Regions from separate parts of the Homo sapiens genome. Here region 1 is linked to region 2. Evidence: fine-mapped expression QTL. A gene starts in region 2. The other region holds a variant in brackets. All regions are shown on one strand. Distances are between the middles of the regions.

What was found.
Region 1: its variant is fine-mapped to the expression of REV1 in whole blood (INTERVAL, PIP 0.94).

The regions. Positions count from the first base shown.
Region 1 is chr2:99,557,917-99,562,916 of GRCh38, forward strand. It overlaps AFF3 (ALF transcription elongation factor 3), which reads right to left. Exons shown (of 25, transcript NM_001386135.1): 21 at 2,449-2,520; 22 at 959-1,052. Among named protein-coding and RNA genes, the nearest start is that of REV1, 70 kb to the left of the region's middle. The variant A/G (reference allele first, on the strand shown) is at 2,397.
Region 2 is chr2:99,486,848-99,492,375 of GRCh38, forward strand. It overlaps REV1 (REV1 DNA directed polymerase), which reads right to left and starts at 3,170. Exons shown (of 23, transcript NM_016316.4): 1 at 2,970-3,170. RefSeq lists silencers at 2,645-2,724, 2,795-2,894, 3,005-3,674 and an enhancer at 3,108-3,993.

The DNA of each region.
Region 1 (5,000 bases), 71 kb after region 2:
TCTATAGATAAACAGAGAAGAGGACCAGAAATCTCAAATTAATTATTAATGTAAGGTCGACCTCACAACAGTACATCAGCGAAGGCTTTTAAAAATTTATTCTCCCAGTGAAAATAATTTCATTCCCTGAGATAAGTAAAAGGTGGCATGGTTTGCAATTTTATCCCTATAGCTACACACTGCTATCTACTGCTTCTGAGTTCTAACAAGCCATCTCTTACCATTTTAAATAACGCCATTAAAAATTAAATAAGCTACTAGAGACTGGCTAAGAGGGAATGGCTCTAAGGGGTTACTTCTAAGGAAAAGAAGCTCTAAGTGAGCATGAGGAATTTATGTTAGCTATAAAGATGAATTTCCTAGGACAGTGGAACGAGTAACTGGATCTTCTTTCTCTTGAAGCCATAAAAATACCTGGACAAGGCTGGGCGTGGTGGCTCACACCTGTATTCCTAGCACTCTGGGAGGTGGAGGCGGGGAGATCACCTGAGGTCAGGAGTTCGAGACCAGCATGACCAACATGGTGAAACCCCATCTCTACTAAAAATACAAAATTAGCCAGGCGTGGTGGTGTGCGCCTGTAATCTGAGCTACTTGGGAGGCTGAGGCAGGAGAATTGCTTGAACCCAGGAGGCGGAGGTTGCAGTGAGCCGAGATCGCACCATTGCACTGCAGCCTGGGCAACAAAGAGTGAAACTCTGTCTCCAAAAATACATAAAAAAATAAAAATAAAAAAATAAAAATACTTGGACAAGAAGGCAGGGAGATACATTAGATGGGCTCTCAAAGGTCCATTCTGAGGCCTGAAAGCCACAAGTGTGGCATAAATGGGGTTACCTTGGGGACCAGAGGTGACCTGCATTAACCCCAAAGCAATGGAGTCTACCAGGTGCTTCACAAATTTGACAGGGAGACAAGTGAAATTAAGGAACAATTCTGCTCATTCACTAGACAGTACCTTGAAATAGTCGATTAGTGCTTTTGAATACTTTACAGCGTGGTCCCTTTTGAGTCGAAACATCCGCCAGTACAGGAGGGCCAGGCATCGGTAACTGCAGGCGAAAAGAGAAACAGGCCCAGAAGCGGCTGAGTGCGTCGTGCGCAAACAAGACTTAAACATTTTTGTTGTTGTTCTAAGGTACTCAATAACAATACCTTGTTTCTACATAGGAAATCTTTCTATACGTGCATATAATGTCTGTGAGGGAACATCTTTTGTCCAAAAATAGAATTCAAAATTCCAAGAAGGTATTCCATAAATACATTTATCACTAGATAATTTTACAGCATTAGGTGAATCACTCTGTTGGGTCACAGGGGCCGGCCGCTTCCTTCTTCCACCACGAGAGGGCGCTGTCTCTCCACGAGAGGCGCGAGGTAGCTCTAGTACGCAGCCTTCACTGCTTCGCGGGCGAGCCCCGCTCTGCGGAAAGGACGACGCTGCCACCTGATGTTACTGAACTATAAGCAGCTCCACTAAAGTCACAAACATGAATGTACTTTATAAACAACAAAAACACTATGCTGGGAATAGGTGCCATCATTATAAACAACAAAAACACTATGCTGGGAATAGGTGCCATCATTTTATTATTTCCTATAATATTTTGTATACTTATTTATATATCAGTATTCTATCTTATATAATCATATTATTGTCATTTAGTGTATTATTCCAATATGGGACTTAAAGTTTGAAAGGGGCACAAAAGGCGTTTCTGAGACTTATCCTCTCTTCCTTGGAGCTCTTCACTCAGTTATTTGCTAACTCGGATCTGATGCTGACATCCAGAATACCAACATTCTGGGTGCAATGGCACCATCTCCTCCTACCAACCAAATCCAGGACAGGTAACAATTTGAGACCTTTTTTGTGTCTGTTGCTGTTATTATTATTTTTTAATTCAACTGTCTTTATTTCACTGCTTGGTAGACATGTATTCTATCAACATTCTCTGCCTTCCACCTACTGATGAGTAAGAAAGGGCTGACAGGTAAAGGAACTATAGGTTACCCGATCGTTCCCTTTTTTCTGTGGCATCATTTTCAAAGTAAGCGGCTGCGCCGGGTGCGATGGCTCACGCCTGTAATCCCAGCACTCTGGGAGGCTGAGGCAGGCAGATCACTTGAGGTCAGGAGTTCAAGACCAGCCTGACCAACATGGTGAAACCCCATCTCTACTAAAAATACAAAAATTAGGCCGGGCACAGTGGCTCATGCCTGTAATCCCAGCACTTTGGTAGGCCTGTCGATTTTCAATCACTGTGAATTCAGATCATGTATAGTACGGCAGCAAAAAATGGTCTGGACTTTCCCTGGTCATTAGAACTGCTCTGGGGCTTTGTATGTTAGAAGACATTGGGCAAACACTATGCCTTTCAGCACCTGGTTTGCCA[A/G]TGATGGCATGCGAGGCTGGGGCTGCTATTCTAAGCGGAGATGGGCACTCACCATAATGCAGCCAGTTGTTTGTCTTCTGGTGTGGCATTGGGGCCTGAGTGGGTTTTTAGTCTCATAGCATACCTTAGAAAAAGCGGGGAGGAGGAATAGAATAAAAAACATAAAAAGCAAAGAAATAGTAAAACTAGCTTTTTTATTAACAGAACTTCTATGATGGTAGTTCTCCCTGCCTGATCCTTAGCTTTTCATAGTACTTGCTGATAATTCTTTCTTAAAAGCTAGCTGGTGCTGCTCCATTTTCCCAAGTATTACATTACTGTGATGACTAGAACAGCTACTTTCTGCTCTTTAACAGTACAAGTTCAAATGCTACAGATTGTCGGGAGTGATACCAGTTCAAGAACTATTCATGTATATGCTAACATGTCCATTTTTCCACATTTTGATTTATGGCTGAGTGTCTGACAGATGGAGGTGAAGTTCTATCCTTCTGTGCTTACCTCCAGAAGAATTTCCATCCTGGGTATGCAGAGGAATGCTTAGATTTACCCCTCTTTCTTTGTTATGTAACTTTTACTTTGACAGCTACATAAGTGTCCTGAGTACATTTTTAATCTCTGTTTGCTTCTACAGACAGATACTACGAGAAACTAGTGGCTTTTATGGACTGCACTTAATTCCATTTATTTTTCTGAACCAAGGGGACTGTGGCCATTGCTTTCTCCCAACAACATACCAAATTACATATGCAGACTCTTTGAGAGAGCTGAGGCAGTATGTGTAATGATCAGATTGTCCTAGGTTCAAATCTCAGCTCAGCGACTTATAAGTTGTAAGTGCTTAGACAAATGTATTAACATCTTTAAGCCTCCATTTCCTTATCTATAAAATAAGACTAATACTGCCAATCACATAACATTGTGTTAAGAATTAACTAAGATAGCGTTTGTAAAGCTCTTGGGATAGTTGGCTGGCTTGTAAATTGCTCAAGAAACATACTGTTATCATCGCACTATCTCCTCAACATGCAGACTTGTAGCATTTTTCAGTGTTATCTCTTTGCATAATTTTTACAGCGGTTGCTCTGGATTTTACAATATACATGTAATTTATTGGTATCAACATTTTATCACTTTGGGATAGTATGGAAGTCTTACTTCAATTTAGATACCTTTACCTTCCCCACTTAAAAATAGCATTGTCTTGAGTATCAGATGGTGGTATAATTTTTTATTGTTTTGTTTTGTAGCAGTGGGGTCTTACTATGTTGTCTGGGCTGGTTTCAAACTCCTGGCCTCAAGCTATCCTCCCAGCTTGGCCTCCTAAAGTGCTGTAATTACAGATGTGAGCCACTGTGCCTGGACTGCTGGTATAATTTTTGTTTCAATCCTCAAACCTGGTTTATAAACTCATAAGGAGTAGTTTATTGTATATATATCTATGTGTCTGTTCTTCCTTCTTTCCCAATGCTCCCATATTCCTTCTTTTGTCATTTTATTTCTGTTTGAGAAACTTCTTTTAGCCAGTCTTTAAGGGTGGGTCTTTTAGAGACACATACTTGTACTTTTCCTAAATCTGAGGCTATCTTTATTTCCCTTCATTCTTGAAGAATAGTTTCACTGACTCTAGAATTCATGGCTTCACAGTTCCTTCTTTGAACCCTTGGAAACTGTCACGCCACTCCCTCCCAGCCTGCATGGTTTCAGAGAAGCCTGCTGTCATTCGAATTGATTCTCCCCTGCAGATAATTATCGTTTCTCCCTGGCTGCTTTCAGGATATTTGGCCTTTAGTTTTTGGAAATGTAATCATGGTGTGTTTTTGCATGCATTTCTTTGGGTTTATCTTATTTAGGTTTTTCTCTGCTTCTTAAATCTGTAGGTTTATGTCTTTTGACAAATTTGGCAAGTTTCAGCCATTATTTCTTCAAATACTCTCTCAGTCCTACTCTCTATTCCTCTCCTCTGAGACTTCCATGACACAAATGTTGGATTTTTTCTTATTGTGCTTGAGGCTGTGTTCATTTAATTTTTTCAGTCTATTTCTTCTTTACTGCTCAGATTGGGTAAATTATATTTTTTGTCCTCAAGTTCATTGACTCTCTCCTGTCATCTCCACTCTACTACTGAGTCCATTTTTGGGGTTTATATTATCAAATTCTACAGTTTCACAATTTCCATTTAGTTCTTTTTAAAATAACTTCCATTTCTTTGAAAAGATTTTCTGGTTTTGTTTGTTGAGTGATAACTGTGATTATTGAAGCATTTTTACGATGGCTGCTTTAAAAATCCTTGTCAGATAATTGCAGCAACTGATTCATCTTTGCATTGAGGTCTTCTGATCATCTTTTTTCATGCCAGTGGTGACTGTCCTAGTTCTTGGTATGATGAGTGAGTTCCTATGGTATCCTGGACATTTTGACCATTAGGTTAGGAGACTCTTGAGTCCTATTTTAAACCCAGCCACCCTGTTTAGGTCTAGCAGGAAGGCCCTAGCCTACTTTGGGGGCTGTGGTTCCAATGATAATTTAATTTTCAGAGCCTTTCTGATACTATTTTAGTCTGTGTGGTTGATCTGGTGCCACCGGGGCTTCAGCTCATCCCTG
Region 2 (5,528 bases):
AGACCTCTGCTCGCTTGTTGAGAACAGGGCTGGCAGCAAACAAGTCTAAGGGGGGAAATAAATAAGTGGGAAAAAAAAAACAGTGTATCTTCACCTAGTAATAAATGCTATGGAGAAAAAGAGAATAAAGAATAAAAGATTATAAAGGAAGGGGCTGGTTCCTATTTTAGAATTAGAAAAGGCCTGAGGCGATGACATTTGAGCAGAAACACAAGACAAGACATGAAGAGCCTTGACCACTTAGAGGAAGGGGTGGTCCAGCTAAAAGAATAGTAAGTATAACATCCTAAGGAAGAAACACTTTGTTCAAGAACCGGCAAAATGACTATGGGACTGGGGTAGGTTGCTGAAAGTCAGTCACCTAGTAAGAGGTAACGTTAGAAGCTGGCAGCTGCCAAATCATGCTATGCCCTGATGGCGACTAAGATTCAAATGTAAGTGGTTCACAGGATGCTTTTAGAGGACACTAAGCAAGAAAGTGACAATCTGATTTACATTTTTAAAAAGATCCCTCTGGTTGTCAAGGTGAATCCCTAGGGAACAGTCAGGGAGCAAGAGAAATAAACCAGTAAAGGCACTATGGAAACACTCCAACCAAGAGATAATGGAACTTAGACTAGGATTCATGTACTGTTTATAAGTAGATGCTAACAGAAGAGCCTGCAACCTAATTGCCTCTAAAGAGCCTTTTTAATATCCCTTTTCCCGTCTCGTCTCCTGACTTGCCTTTGGAAAAAAATAAGATTATTTTTTAATGTCCATGTTAACGCTTCAGTTGGTGCTATTATAGTAAAAAAAAACTTTTCATTTTTAAATGTTCTGTTTAATATACTCTATGATTAGTAATACGCCACATATACACACCCATACATTCTTGAAAAGCAGAAAGACCCACAATGCTCTTTAGTGTAGGACTTGTTCATTTATTTGGAGACGAGAGGTACCTGTCACCTCTTCTGATTACCTTTCCTCTCACGCTTTGTCTCTAGCACATCCTGGCTCATTCTAGATTGTGAACTGCAATAAACAGGTATACCAAAGGGAATATGTATTTACTGAGCACCTCCTGAGTACCATGGTGTCACTAGATGTCTCACGTTTAAGAACTGATTTAATCCTCAGCTACCCAAGGTGGGAAATGGTATCTTCATTCTACAAACGAGAAAAAATCAGAGATACTAGTAACTTAACTTGTCCAGTCACCAGCTAACAATTTGTAGGGCCAGAAATCTAACCTCCATGTAACTGTGAACTTCCTGTCTTTCCACTACAGCAGCTATCAAAGAAAGTGCTTTCAAATATATATTATATGTAGTCACTGCAACTTCTTATGAATAATGACCAGTTTGTTGCTGGTGAGGACAACGTTTCCTTAATGCTCTTATGTAGAATCAGAGTTTTGAAGTTGCGAGTGGGAAGTTGGAAATGTAGTGATCTTATATATTCAAGCACATTATTTTTTAAAAATTATGTTCTACTTGAGACCTCATAGAAATTAATTTTAAAAGAGCAATTCCCATCTTTACAAAAAAAATTAAATATGTACGGTTTACCGTAAAATAGCGGTTAAGGTTCTACAACAAAAGATAGGAGTTTGGTACAGACTCTACCCTCAAAAGGTCCTACACAGTAAGAGAAGACAGGGCTAAAAAGATAAACGCAACACAGGAAAAGGCGCAAATAGCCTAAGAATTGAATGGAAGAGAGCCTTGTATACTGGAGAATGATTCCTGGAAGAGGAACTTTAGGTGAGCTCTTAAGTGTCCAGTACAGGAAGGCAGGGAACAATACGCAGCACTGGTCCCTGCACGGGCAAACCCAAGAATATGTGTGAAAGGTTGGTGGACAGATAGATGGTTCCCACAGGCTGATTTGCTACATACAGAACTCCATAGAAAGAACCAAGGTTATGGTTGGTCCTACCCTACCTAAACAGGAAATGGCTTATTCTCGGAGACTAAAGTGCCAAGTCCGGAAAGACCAGACAGATACACAGAATTACAGACTGTTACATAAAGTCCTTAATAGTTACAAGCCCTTGTTGTGCTATGTGCTAGTCTGCATTATTTTCACCTAAATGAAACCATTTCTACTTAGTACATGGCGTGAGAAGACGTGGAGATAAAGAGAATTAGCAGACGTATATTATCTGCAATTTATCTTACGGAGGAGTACATTAAGGAGTGTTATGTGAGATTATTTCTTTACAAACTGAGAATAGGTAGGAAGAGCAGCGAAACACAGCGCGGCTCGGTGCGCCCAGAGCGGCGTCACTGTAACAGTACAGAAGTGGGCAAGGGGCTCTCGGAAGGACAGTTGGGGAACGGCGCCCAGCGTATTTAGCGAACGGACAAGCAGCAAGGAAAAACAAGGGAGCAACAACCGCCTTCGGACATTCCGACCGGTTCTGGGATGCACCGGGGACGTCGAAGGCGGGGTGCGGAAAAACGCTGTGGCTGGAGTGCGGGTGGGAGCGGCGGCTCGACCGGGTCGACATTCTACAAACGCTTGTGGAACGAACGCCCGAACGCGCGCGTGAATGAATGGCGCGGAACTGAATGGCCGGCCGAGGCGCCGGCGCAGGAGGAAGGAGTTTGCGGCGCGGTCTGACCGGGCCGGCGGGATGCGGCCGGGCGCGGAGGGAAGGGCCGCTGCGCCAGGGGTCGGCGCGGGGCGGCCCATGGGGCTGGCGGCGGCGCGGGGCCGGCCGCGCCATGACGGAAGGGAAGGGGAGGGGAGGTCACACATTACATAACCCGGCGGCTGCGAGCGTCAGGGGAAGGCGCCGTGGACAGCCCAGGCCGCGACAGGACGGCCGCGGGCCGGGGCCGGGGCGACGCACCCCTCCCCCGCGCCACCTCAGGCCGACCGCGCTCTGGCCGCTGCCGGGCGGGTCTGCGGCGCCTCCGGGCGACGCGTGTCCGATCCCGCCCCTCCCCCACCCCGCCGCCGGCCCGGGGGTCGCTCACCTTCCGCGTTGCCCCAGACCACCATGCCCGGGCCCGGCGGCCTTCTCCGGCCTTGCGGACCCCGGCCCCGCCGCCGCCAGTGCCCTCGCCAGGGACCAGGGAGGAGGGCCGGGGGAAGGCAGCCCCACCGCTGAGCAGCGCCGCGGTCCACGCTCCCCCACGCTCGCGGCAACCAACCCCGCGCGCGCTCCGCGGTGGCTCTCCGCCCCTCCCCCTCCGGTTAGCGCGCGCGCCGCAGCCACGCCCCCTAGCGTTCCGCGCGCGCTCCCCGGCCCCGCTCGCGCTCACAGCCGCGCGGCGCACGCGCTCTGCTCCCCCCGGCCCGGGGCGACCCCAGCCTCGGGCGTAGCACCGCGGCGCCCGGCGTCGGCCTCCGTGTTCCTCCCCTCCCCGGCCCCGCCCTGTTGTTCTGCAGCCGCCCGCAAGGGGCAGCGCCTGGGCGGCACGTGACCGTCTCGCTAGCTGGGCGGAGGGGAGCGCAGCGCGGGCCCGCCCACGCACTGCGCCGCCTGCCCGCCCGTCCTGCTCCGGTCACCCCCGCGCTTCGTTGACCGGGTCGCGGCTCTTCGGTTGCCATTCGGACAGCGCGCCGCTCCGTGCACAGCGAGTCCCCGCGCCTGCCCCGCCTTGGGGCTCCCCAGTGGGGAAGGACACAAGTGCAGACACTGACCGGGCTTCAAACCCCGGTACTGTGTGAAGATGCGCCAGACGCCCGGGTTCCCTCCTTAAGCAATTGATTTACAGTGACATCTAGTGGAGAAAGGGACACACATGAACTGACATTTTCCTATGTCCAGAGCAACCGAGAACCACGGCCCACTCAGGTTCGCGGGAAGGAGCACTGCGCCACGGCGTTTTCGGGATTCGTGGCCTGCTCCCGCAGGGCACAGACACTATCTTCTGTCCTTTGAGTGCCCGGGCAGCATTGCGCCTGAGTATTTGTAAACGGAGGGCCGGTATCCCATCCCATGTACAGCGCTGGAGTTACCCGAGAAAGCAGTTTTCTATGAATATAAAAATAATATCCTATATTATGTATGCGTAAGTACAATTCTAATTGAGGGCCTTCTAGCAGAAAACAATCCGTCCATAAGGACCACTTTCTCCCTCTTGGCAGGGTCGCTTTGAAGACTCCACATTGTTACATAATAGTCTTTATTGTTGTAATGCACAAACATGAAGATACTTTTTTCCCACTCATTCCCTTGCCTAAAATGCTTCAGAGTTTGCAGGTACTTAGGAAACAATCAGTATTCTTTTGAAAACTGATTTGCAGAGTTGGAACTTGTTTACTAGCAACACAGAGAATACTCAAATAGCTCATTTCTTTCCCTTTCAGTTTTTTGCCATTTTATAGACTTCTATAAATGCACTTCAACTTCAGTATTCTCGTCGCTAATCCAACGAATTTAGATTGCATACTTTTCAAAGACGTCATAATTTAAAACAAATTGCGTAATTGCTTTCTTTTCTTTTCTTTTCTTTTGAGACGAAGTTTTGCTCTTTTGCCCAGGCTGGAGTGCAATGGCGCGATCTCGGCTCACTGCAACCTCCGCCTCCCAGGTTCAAGTGATTCTCCCACCTCAGCCTCCCGAGTAGCTGGGATTACAGGCATGCGCCACCATGCCCGGCTAATTTTTGTATTTTTAGTAGAGAGGGGGTTTCACCATGTTGGCCAGGCTGGTCTGGAAGTCCTGACCTCAGGTAATCCACCAGCCTTGGCATCCTAAAGTGCTAGGATTATAGGCGTGAGCCACCGTGCCTGCCCATAATTTTAACAGACTCACGACCAGTTGCCGACTGCAACACCAGGAGGTCATCTGCTGAGATGCTACAGAAAAACAGTGGTAACCCCTTGTTATGGGTGAGTTTTGTTTTGGTTGTTGTTCTTTTGCTTGTTTTAAATGTCTAAATGGCAGCATTCCTGCACGATTGTATTTCAATTTTCTTTTCCACTCTCGTATTCAAACCGAAGATCTTTTTTTTTCTTCTTTTTGTATTTTTCTCAAGGAAGAAACACAAACCTTGAGCCAACTGACCTTGGCAATACCTTTATAGAATACAGTAAAATGGTATTAACTGCAAACTAGTAGGCAGCCTCTGTAAAGGACGAAAAAAAATCACGTTGCTGTCTACATAAAATAGGATAAAAAGAGAGATGGGGAATACATAAATAAAAATGTATTTATGGACAAATTCTAGCATCCTTGTGACAGGGTCTTGCTCTGTTGTCCAGGCTGGAGTGCAGTGGCAAGATCATAGCTCAGTGTAACCTCAAACTCCTGGTCCCAAGCGAACCTCCCACCTAGGTGTTCCAAAGCACTAAGATTACAGGCATGAGCCACCTCACCCAGTCCAAAGTTTTATTTTTGTCCATTCCAGAATATTATGTTTTATGCCATCACATAATGAAGTCCTCTTGTTTCAATTTCATGCACCTACATTTATTCACCCACTTATCTATTTATATTTATTCTCATAGGATTATCTTTCTCATGTAAGGGGAGTCAGGCTGACCTTTGGGCCACTCTGGGGGTCTAGAGATGGCCGCGCTGGACC